Linked DNA regions of Homo sapiens. The protein of the gene in region 2 purifies or fractionates together with the protein of the main gene of each other region. This does not show direct contact. Each region holds a gene or a part of one and is shown on either strand. Other genes may lie near its edges. The genes, in order: DPCD, RUVBL1 and ACTL6A.

The links.
Region 1: the proteins of RUVBL1 (region 2) and DPCD purify together in Homo sapiens (affinity purification with mass spectrometry; 7 studies listed by BioGRID and IntAct, with this or other methods). This does not show direct contact.
Region 3: the proteins of RUVBL1 (region 2) and ACTL6A purify together in Homo sapiens (affinity purification with mass spectrometry; 11 studies listed by BioGRID and IntAct, with this or other methods). This does not show direct contact.

Annotation. Positions count from the first base shown.
Region 1 is NC_000010.11:101,594,738-101,598,389, reverse strand, and holds part of DPCD (protein DPCD), read right to left. Parts: coding exon 3,652-3,652; intron 1,798-3,651; coding exon of another isoform or gene 1,751-1,797; exon of another isoform or gene 376-1,750; intron 1-375. UniProt on the Homo sapiens protein: May play a role in the formation or function of ciliated cells.
Region 2 is NC_000003.12:128,099,692-128,103,343, forward strand, and holds part of RUVBL1 (ruvB-like 1), read right to left. Parts: intron 1,958-3,652; coding exon 1,868-1,957; intron 1,054-1,867; coding exon 904-1,053; intron 1-903. UniProt on the Homo sapiens protein: Possesses single-stranded DNA-stimulated ATPase and ATP-dependent DNA helicase (3' to 5') activity; hexamerization is thought to be critical for ATP hydrolysis and adjacent subunits in the ring-like structure contribute to the ATPase activity.
Region 3 is NC_000003.12:179,569,387-179,573,038, reverse strand, and holds part of ACTL6A (actin-like protein 6A), read right to left. Parts: intron 3,216-3,652; coding exon 3,139-3,215; intron 2,973-3,138; coding exon 2,798-2,972; intron 1,517-2,797; exon of another isoform or gene 1,269-1,516; intron 1-1,268.

The DNA.
Region 1 (3,652 bases), on a different chromosome or scaffold from region 2:
AAGCACATGTAATATTTTGAAAGGTTTCTGTTTTTTTTTAAGTAGCTCAATTTATTTTTTATATTTGGCCTTTAAAGGGTAAGCTTTGATTATCTGAAAAAGTAAATTATGAGGACTACCTCACGACCTAGGGCTGGATAAGTGAGGTGCCCCTGTAAGTCATGGGCCTTGCTAAAATGGGTGTCCTAATGCATAATAATGCACCAAGGTGGCCTGGAGGGACGACAACCACCCCAGGGTTTTCTGTGCACTTTTACTCCAAAAAATTTTGAGTTTTACACAGAAAACTTCCCAAGAAGTACTCAAAGAAGGAAGAAAGTCAGCTGCTGATTTCCTTACTTCTGACCTTAAAAACCACTCAGGGAACTTGACACCTCTGGCTGCTTCACCTTTATTTTTTGTTTAAACACCTTGAGAATTAAATTCTTTGTTAGAATGTAGAAGAAAGTCTCCTTTCCCATTCCCTCTAGAGATAAGACCCAATAAAAGATTTTGGGGAAGTCCTTCTTATTTTTCCTATGCACAAGTGCATGGGTGTGAACACACATGTACAAATGCACACTTTGTCTTGTCTTTCTTGCCCCCGTCTTTGTTTCTGAACTCAAGGACGGCTCCTGCGGCAACAGAAGACTGTTTCCATCTGCTGTCACTCTGATTTGATTATATGTTAAACCCAAACTGGTGTGAGGCAGCTTCCCGGGACGCTGTCATATCTTCCCAGCTGAGCCCCAGCCAGACCTTGGAAAAGAGACTTTCCACCCCGGTGAAGAGTCTGATGGGGAATATATAAAGGAGGTGGCGCCTGGGGGCTTTTTCCTAAATCAGCAGGAAGCAGGCTGATGTCCCAGACTGCTGAAAGGAGGCCCCATCTTTCAGGTGGGCTGGAAAGTAGAAGTCCTAAAGGCCTCTTTCCCCAAAGCTCCAAACCCTGGCCCACTTCCAATGTGGATAATTACATTCCCCTTCCCTAAATGTTCCCTGCAGCTTCAACTGGATGCAGGATTCTTCTTTTCTGCCTTAAAACACTGCAACATTGCTATGTGGCAATTAAACAGCTGCCATGTCCCATCCCAGAGGAGGCCGAAGGGAATCGAGTGGGTCATTTATAAAGCCAGTGAAGTGCTTGGGGATGAAAGTGCTCAATATCCTCCAAATGCAGCCTGGGGTGGTTAGGCTGGCGGTCAAATACCAAAGCAGATTAAGTCGGTAATCCGAATGTAATCGCTGGGGGATGGCCTGCCCTTCAGCCTCAGCCCCCTTGGACATGCTGTGTTCTTCTCAGGCTGGTTTGATGTTCCGATCATTGTTGTGGGGCCTTCAGTTTTTTCCTCTATGAATACATGCAGCAATCATTGTGGGGGGTGGGAATGAATAGCACTGAGAGGGTAGGAAAAAAACAGGACACTAACATGCTTATTAACACCGACGGGAGGAACTCTGTCCCAGACTGACGCACACCTATTGGCAATTCTTCCTCTGTAAATTACTTTGAATTTTTCTAACAGAAAACTGGTTTGGCTAATTATCAAATTTGTATACTTAGCTAGAAAAATGGAAACTATTCCTATTTATTGCCACAAAAACCATGTCCCTACTTTACTTCATAGAATGCACAAGCAAAAGCCAGCTCAACCCCTGGGATTATTTATACTTAAAAATTAATAATGGAGAGTATTTTGCCAGGGCAGCAGTGGTGGATAGGAAGAAGAGTAAGAAAAAGATCTGCTGTTCTAGAGCTGGGCCCAGTGGCTCAAGTGAGGTCCTCCTGTCTGCCCATCAGTCCACACTCAGGCCTTTCTGGGGAAAGAAAAACAGTAAGAAGAAAAGAAAGTTGGATTTAAGTGTTCTCAACTCCCAGCACTATGTTGTTGAGGACTAAAGCATGGGCTCTTAATTGGACAGAACTAGGCTTAAATCCTGGCTTAGAAACTAGCTACATAATTCTCAACAAGGTGCTTAACCTCTTTGAGCTTCCATTTTTTCCAAATGTAAAATGGAGACAAGAGTATCTACCTCATAGGGCTTTAACGAGGACGAGTAAATGAGGTAATTCACGTAGAGCACTTAGCATGGTGCCCAGTAAGAGTCACGCTATTAATATCATTATTAGGTCAACTTTAGCCAAACAGTGTTCTCCTGTGAACAGTCTTCTCCATTTCTGCTTTTAAGAAAGAGGAGTTTGGAAGCCATGGTCTATTCCCCACCTGCCACTAGGAGAAGTGACAGGTTAATAAGGGATATCAGGGCACATGGTGCTACAAATGAAGAAACCTGGACTTGTTTTTAATTTCAGTTTCATATCCAAGCACAACAAAGAGGCCTGGGTTTTATTTGTTTGTTTTTACAGCCGCAGCAGCTATAGCTGTTTTATTTGCTCTGTGTGGAGGAGTAGAGAAGTGGCACGGGGGGCTGGGAGTGAGGAGCTGCGGCTATTCTCTGGCCTGGTTATGGTGGTGGCTAGTCCACGTGACCTCTGCTTTCATAAGTTCTCCCCTGTTAGGCATTCCAAGGCTGTCATCCCCTGGGAGCACTATAAATTACAATGCATTGTGAGGATATTACTACTGTATTGGTTTCCACCGAATCAGTGTCATATGCTAAACACATCAAGATTTTTAATAGCACCAGACTAAACCAACTGGGACTGGAGCCCAAGCAGCTCATAATAAGGAGGGATCAACACTTCACTGTGCGACTGAACATGCGCAGGACAAACATTTTAAGACTGGAGACTGAGGGAATGCAAGCCCGTGTAATCCATGTTGTCGGTTCTAGACATTTATGAGCTGTCAGAAAAAAGGAAAAAGAAATTCCCTCACCAATACTACCTGTCGATCAGGCCCAGGAAGAAATTAAAGCCAAGAATAATGACAAGAAAATAAACCAGCCTGTGATTCCATCATTGGTCTTAGCATTTCAGATGGAACTTAATAAAGAGACCAACTCCCACTGCTGACAGCCTTGGGCCCTGGGTCAAAGAGCCAGCCACCTAGCTCTGGGAAGCTGGTTAATGCTGATGTGCACACCTGGGAACAGAGTGGACAAATCAAATAATTCCCAGAAATCTGAGCTGGAGCCCCTACCCATGAGCCTGTTCTTAGAGGAAAGGCGCTGCAGGAATGAAAGTGACCACGCTGCAAAATCACTGTTTTGACCCTCTTTGACTGAGATGTTCTTCAAAATAAGGACCATATTTTATAGTGTTGCCTTTGAGGCAAGCTCAGAAGCTCTGCCTCTGATACTCGCTTGCTCCTGGTGTGGCTTTAGAAAACAAAACAAACAAACAAAAAAACAAGGAAAAACAAATTGTGAAAGTCTGCCCTTATCCCTCCTAAACCTACAAGGCTCACTTCCAATACCACCTCCTCTGTAAAGTTTTTTCCCAACTGTTTCTCTACATCTTAGAATTACTCCCTCTCTCATTTGTCTGGGGTGAGGGGTGGGGATGAATTTTACTGGTCAAAAGGACTCGCATTCCACTTTTGGTGCCCAGATTATGCTCAGGAACGTTGTTGTCTCGAGGGCTTCCGTCTCTCCCAGCCTCTACATTTGATCTGGGCTCCTACCTCAAGCCTAAGGCTAGGAGTGTTCATTGTGCTTATGTCAGCCCCAAGTATTACTAAAGGCCCACTGGGAGCCTCTGTCACTTACC
Region 2 (3,652 bases):
AGACACAGAAGGGCTCACTAAATGCTGAATAGCTAAAGGCAGCAAATGTTTCCTGTCTGGTCCTCAAAACTGCCTTGCCAAGTAGGAGGGAACTCAAAACCGAACCCCAAACCACAGAAAACCCAGAGACCCAAAGTGACAAATTAACCAAGCTGGTCAGTGATGGAGCAACACAGTTCCTGACTTCTGACTCCCAGCCCAGCACTCTTCTCAGGTCAAGGGCTCCCAGGAGGTCAGTTTGGGGATGGCCATTTCACCAACCAAGGGGACCTGTTGGTCCAAGATGAGTCTTCAGTAATCTCTTGACCAAAGCTCCAAGGAACAAAACACCCACGGATCAAATTTCAAGTCAGAAAACAAACTATTCCCTAATAGTGACTATTCACTATTTCCTAGAAATGTCATATAGTGATAACATCCTTTCCTGCACTTTACTAGCCAAGGCATAAGTATCCATCTGTATGAGAAGCAGACAACAGTACCAGCTCAAAGCTAAAACACTGTGGCTTTTGCTAAGCAGGGGGAAAGAAAGAGCTTTGTTAGGCTTTCTGAAATCCTGTAAAGGGCTCATAGAACACTCCTGCCCTCCTGCCATTAACACCCAGAAAATCCCAGGTGTGAGCCCACTGCTGGAGTGAAGCCATGGAGGAAGCTGGCTAGCTCAGGGCCAGAGGCTTGGCTGGGATAAGAAACAATACACATGAAATCATCTGTGACTAGAGCATTTGAATGGGAACAAAGGAGTCCCTCGTAGCTCATGTCGATGTTAATTGCTGAACATTACAGATAGAAAAGGACCGTCTACCTCAAGAAAGGCAGCAAGACTCTGACAATTCATTCCCAGATCTCCACACACATACAAAAGGGCTAATGTGCCAGATCACCCAGGCATCGAGGCAGTACCTGGGGCCGCGCATTAGCCACATCCAAGTCATGCAAGGTCACATCTTGGATGATTTCTTTCTTTTTGTGCACATCCCCTTTTGGCAAGGGGACATACTCTTCAGCTTCAAGGTCGAATTCTGTGGCATAGGTATCACACCTGCCCTGCCTCTGCAAAAAGAGAGAAACATGAGTGCCTGGTAAGTTTTCACTGCCAAGTCCCCAAATGGCACAGGGCTAAGTGAGATAAAGGTCTCAGTTCCCACTGCAGGCCTGACAGCCTACTTGACAAACTCCAAATATGCCCCACTCCCCTGCTGCCAAGAGAAGGGAGCTATCTGCTCATCGCTGGGCTCCAAAAACTGGGTTGAAAAACACCTGATACTTTCTCCCAAAATCCTTTTTCCCTTCTTTCTTTTAACTGTATGCAATTCCTGATAAAGGCCAAATCCAGTAGATTAACTGGAGGCAGAGGAGCTGCTCAGACTCTTTTGTAGGTGGATGATTTATTGTATGATATGAAGTATTATGCCCATCCATTAAACAGTGAGGAACACTGTACAGGACCCTGAAAATCAGATAGAAAAGAATGCCAACGAATGCAGCGTTCCTTCCCACATGCATATATCTTGGGAAGAAAATACCAAAGAGATAAAAGGAAGATTAAATACACTGCACATTTCAATTTGAAAGTGACTAAAGTTGTTTTGGTTTCTCACCCTGTCCTCCCCCTCTGAACAGGTTTTAGTATTTTTTCTAACAGACTATCTGTTTTAATCGCGAGAAGGTTAAAGAATGAAGATAAAGGGAAGGCAAACTTTATTATACATAAAGGGCCACTAGTTGACCTTCCATCAGCCTCATAACAGACACCAGCCCCTCCCCACACACCCCACACCCTCTGAAGAAAGCAACTCCCTTGTCACTTAGGTCTTCTCATGGCAAACAAATCAGGGACAATGCTGTGTCCCAAGGAAGGCATTACCTTCACGGCCCCACTGTTGGCTTCAATGTAAATCACATCTCCAGCTTCTACTCGCTCTTTCTGCAAACTTTCAAAAATGCTGGGGTCCAGCTAAAAAAAAAAATGTAAATCAGAAGTGTAATACATATTCCATTTCCTTCTGACACCATGTAAGGTACCTTTCCGTAAGGGATCTGAGGTAGCTAGCAGGTGCATGGAGAAAGCCTGTTTTGCGTTTGCATGAATACTGGGACCTGCAGGAGTGTGAATGCATAAGTACCACACAACAGACTGGCTGGGGGACTAAGCACACCAGGGAGAAAATAGGGGGGCCAGCATACCTGCATCCCTATGTAACGAGCATGAGAGGGACACAGGGGACACGTACTCTCCTCTTTCCCTTGATTCCAAAGGCTGTAAACTGGCAGCAGCGCTTTTATAAGGATGGTCCTGGCTGCCGTGAGACGGGTGGGCCCAGCCCCCACTGTCCACAGGACCACAGGCCCTATCACCCCTCTTGAAATCATCATCCCTACTTCACTCCTTCATTTGCCTCACCTCAGGTGGGGTGGAACTTTCCACAACTGAAGTACCTGCCAGCACCTGCTTACCAATCTCAAAGCTGGCATCTTGCAGGGCCTTTGATTTTGGATAAGGTTCTCAGTTCTAAGTTTCCTCATCTATACAACAGCACCCAGGTGCAATCACAGATGTATACAGTAATTCAAAGAAAAACATAAATGAGAATCTTTCCCAAGCCTTTTGACTCACATCCCAGTGTTTGTGCCCTTGGGTCTGCCTGCTTATATCTCCAGGAAAGGAAATAAGCAGATTTGCGGAACTGTTGCTTTTCTCCAGATTCTGGTGACCCTCAGTGATTAATATTCTAGGACAGCTGCCTTTGTAAGGATTCTATAGTTAAACACAAGTTTCTCGAGGTCTTCATGGAGATCTATGTTATACAATGTAGCTATGGTGGAAAAAAAACTTGGGCTTTGCCCAAACAAAATTAAAAAGTGAAAACCCAGGACTTGGTGAAAGAAGCCAGATACAAAAAAAGACATACACTGTATGTTCCATTTATATGAAATGTCCAAAAGAAGGCAACCGAAAGTAGATTAGTAGTTGCCGAGGGCTATAGTTGGAATGGGGAATGACTGTAAATGAGTAGGAGGATTCTTTTTGGGGCGATGAAAATGTTCTGAAATTAAGATTGTGGTGATTGTACAACTGTGAAAATAAATTAAAATTCCTGGAATTGTATACTTAAAATGGGTGAGTTTTATTTAAAATGCTATCTGAATAAAGCTTTTAAAAAACTACCACCACAGCAGCAAACCCAGGGTTCTGCCTCTCCTTAGCTGGGTGGGGACGGCAGACCCTGGCAGAACTGCTGTGAGTCTGTGCGCCTAAGGACAAAAGTGGGTGAGGCCCCCAGGTAAGGCCTGGCAGGAAGGGGTCATGAGTACTAATGGCATTCTCGTTGCTAGAACTCAGAAGACTCCTTCAGACTTGAATATCCACCAAGTATTTGAGCACCTTCTATCCAAATATCTTGTACATATTCTAAAAATACCTAAAAGTATTCATTTTGGAAGAAAAATTTCATCTTCTCCTCTACATTATTTTTGTAAAGAAACTGTACAAAGCAGTGTTACAAATAGCTGAAATTTAAACTGTACGCCTTATTTTATCTGTCCTACATTGGAGAATATACTTCTTTTTTGCCTCAAGCATTTTTATATCGGTTAATTTCCCAAATGAATTGACTGAAGATGTAATTACTGGAAAGGTGGCAGATGCTAC
Region 3 (3,652 bases), about 51 Mb from region 2:
GAATTGTATGGCCTTCTGATGATACTACTGCTGGATTTATAAAAAAAAAAAAAAAAGAAAGAATTGTATGGTCTAGACCCGACACTCAAAAAAACTTACAATCTATTTGGAAAAAGACTAAAAGACATGTTAAAAATTCAAAGAAGAGCATCTGTCTTCAATTTGGCTTCCACCTAAACATTCCATTAAAACTACTGACATAAGTCACTAATGACCTTCTTTTTTCTTTTTTTTGAGATGGAGTCTCGTTCTGTCCCCCACACTGGAGTGCAATGGCACAATCTCAGCTCACTGCAACCTCCGCCTCCTGGGGTCAAGCAATTCTCCTCCCTCAGGCTCCCGAGTAGCTGGGATTACAGGTGCCCGCCACCGTACCCAACTAATTTTTGCATTTTTAGTAGAGACAGGGTTTCACCATGTTGGCCAGGCTGGTCTCGAACTCCTGACCTCAGGTGATCCACCCACCTCAGCCTCCAAAGTGCTGGGATTACAGGCGTGAGCCACCGCCCCCAGCCACTAATGACCTTCTACTAGGCAAATTCATGGATACTTAACATTTTTAATCTCATCTGACTTCTCTAAATTATGACAGTATTGCCTACACAAGAGTTTACAAACTTTTCTGTCACAGCCCAAAGAAAAAATGTCATTAATTATATATTTCCACAGGCCCACCTGGATTTTTTTAACTTCTTTCTTAGTGTAAAGCTTTCAATGTCACAGCAGAAAACACCGAGAATAACTGGAATTTTATGCTTCCAGAAACTTTTTCTTTTCTTGTTCTTCCCCTGCTTTTTTTCCTACATCCCTAATTGTTCCCTTTCTTTCTCCTTCAAGGGTACCTTTTATTCTCTATTGGTTAAAATATACAACAAGTTTTTGCTAGAACTCCATCTTCAATCCTCTTCTCATGTTCCAATTTTTTTCAGAGTAATAAAATGCAACTCCATGTCTTAAAATCTTTCTTATAACCTTTTATTCCCGTTTACTGAATTATCACCTGGATGTTCTAAGTACTTTGAACTCAGTGAACCCATTTACTTACTACACATGAAAGAGTTAACACTGCAAGCCTGAGAAAGGCCTGCTTGTAAGGCTGACTCTTAGCTGGTGTCTGGAAACATGACTGGCAAACAGTTCCCTATGTTCATATAAAACTTGTCCCTAAATGGTAAGGGTAGCTCGCTATACCTACACTGTTTATACAATGTGGTTTGTTCTGAACACTTGCTTTCCTTCTGAGAATCTAAAATTTTGTTACATGCCAGGTAGATGGTACCTACATAACCAGCCCTCTGTAAAATCCTTGGGTACTGAGCCTCAGAGTTCTCCTGGAAGGTAACACAGATCATAACTTGTTGCTGGAGGGATTAAGCACATCCTGTGTGACTCCACTGTGAGAAGACTCTCCAAAGCCTGTATCTGGACTTCATCATCCCCTGTCCCTTTTCCCTTTGTCGATTTTGTTTTGTATCTGAATCTTCAGTACAATAAATCTTAGCTGTGAATACAACCATATGCTGAGTCCTGTGAGTGAGTCTTGCTGGTGAATAATTGAACCTGAGAGTGATTTTGGCTATCCCTGATAAGCTTGTTTTTTTTTTTTGTTTTTTTTTTTGAGACAGAGTCTCACTCTGTCACCCAGGTTGGTGTGTAGTCATGAGATCTCAGCTGCAACCTCTGCATCCTGGGTTCAAGTGATTCTCATGCCTCAGCCTCCCAAGTAGCTGGAATTACAGGTGGTACGCATCACCACACCTGTCAAATTTTTGTATTTTTAGTAGAGATGGGGTTTCGCCATGTTGCCCAGGCTGGTCTCAAACTCCTAGACTCAAGCAATCCACCCACAGTCTCAGCCTCCCAAAGTGCTGGGATTATATAGGCGCGAGCCACCACGCATGGCCAACCATGCCTTTTAAAACCGTAACACTTGCTCCTTCCCTTTATATTCCTATCTCAATGCATGGTACTCTCTGTTCAGAGTTACCCCAACCAAAAATCTAGGAAACTTTCTCAACTTCTCTCTTGCTTTCACTCCCTCGATCATTTAGTACCATTTGTCTCCTGGTTACCCTGAAAGTCCCTTCAGAATCTCTACCAGCATTATATAATAGTTTAAACCTTTTTCATTTCTCATCTGGACTCTGACCATCACATCTGTTTAAATTCCTTTGGGGTTATCCTTCAGTCACTAGCTTAATACAACCCTGGGATGGTTTACAAGCCCTTTTATGACTGCTCCCTGCCTACCTTTCCTGCTACTGCTCTCTGCCTACCTTTCCTGCTACTGACCCTAATAAGCCCAATGCTGCAACCATACTTAATTGTATTACATTTTCAAGCACATAAGTTTCTTTCACAATTCCATCCCTTCACACATGCTGGTCCCTTTGCTTTACCCAGCTTTGTCAGCCAAGCTAATTCTTACTCATTGATCAAGATTCATCATGTTACCTCCTTTGTGAAAACCATCACTGACTCCCAACACTAGAGTCAAATACCTCTCCTCTCTAATCCCATTGCTCATTGCACATACCTATATTGTACCACTTATCCCACAGTGTACCATTATTTGTATATATACATCTATTTCCCCCAACTAACTGTAAGCTTTTAATGAAAAGGAACATTTCTTATGCATCTTTGTATTCTCAGTGTCTGGAAATCAGTTTGTGGAATAAAAAACAAAACAAAACAAAAAACCATGGTTGATGTTCAACTTATAGGAAGCTACTACTTTGTATCTAAAATATAACATGTACACTCCATAATCAATTCCATGGGGAAAACATCATACCCATCCCATTTTTTAGAGGTGAAATGGCCTCCATATTCTCCCTCGGAACACGCAGAGCATTAGTATCTATGTAGTAGGTGGGACCGCCTTGTTTGCCTTTATCGCCATCTATTTCCATTAATGTGCTTCCGTCATCTCTTTCTACCACCATACCAATAGCTGTAGGAAAATCCACCTGTAAGAGTCAGAAACATGACATACAAGTTTCACCTTTCATCAAGAAGGCATTTTTTCCCCAATTAATGTATTTTATTATATTTTGTTTTGAATCAGAATTTCTGCATAAATTTAATTTACATGAATGGCTTTACATATCCAATTAACTCTAACATTACACTTACCTTGGGGCAGTCCTCACCAGCATAACCAGCTCTCACAGTATAGGATCCAATGTCAAAAACAAGGGCTCCAACTTCATCTGAAAAGATTAAAGATAATTAGCATTAACAGCTTGCAAAAGTATCATATGAAAATCACAGCTCACTGCAGCCTCAACCTCCTAGGCTCAAGCAATCCTCCCGCCTCAGTCTTCCAAATAGCTGGGACTACAATGAATTTCTTAAATTTTTTGTAGACATAAGGTCTCACTATGTTGCCCAGGCTGGACTCAAACTCCAGGGCTCAAGCAATCCTCTGCCTCAGCATCCCAAAGTGCTGCAGGCATGAGCCACTGCACTCAGCCCAATTATATTCATATTATTACTCACTTGAACCTAGTTTCAAATACACCTTAAAGAATCATTTAATTAAAATATAACAAGGCATACACCGTATTTAAGTAGAGGTTCAATCAGTTAAGAAATGGTACACTAAAACTGGGTAATTTCAGTTTACTTATTAAAGGGAATTATTTGC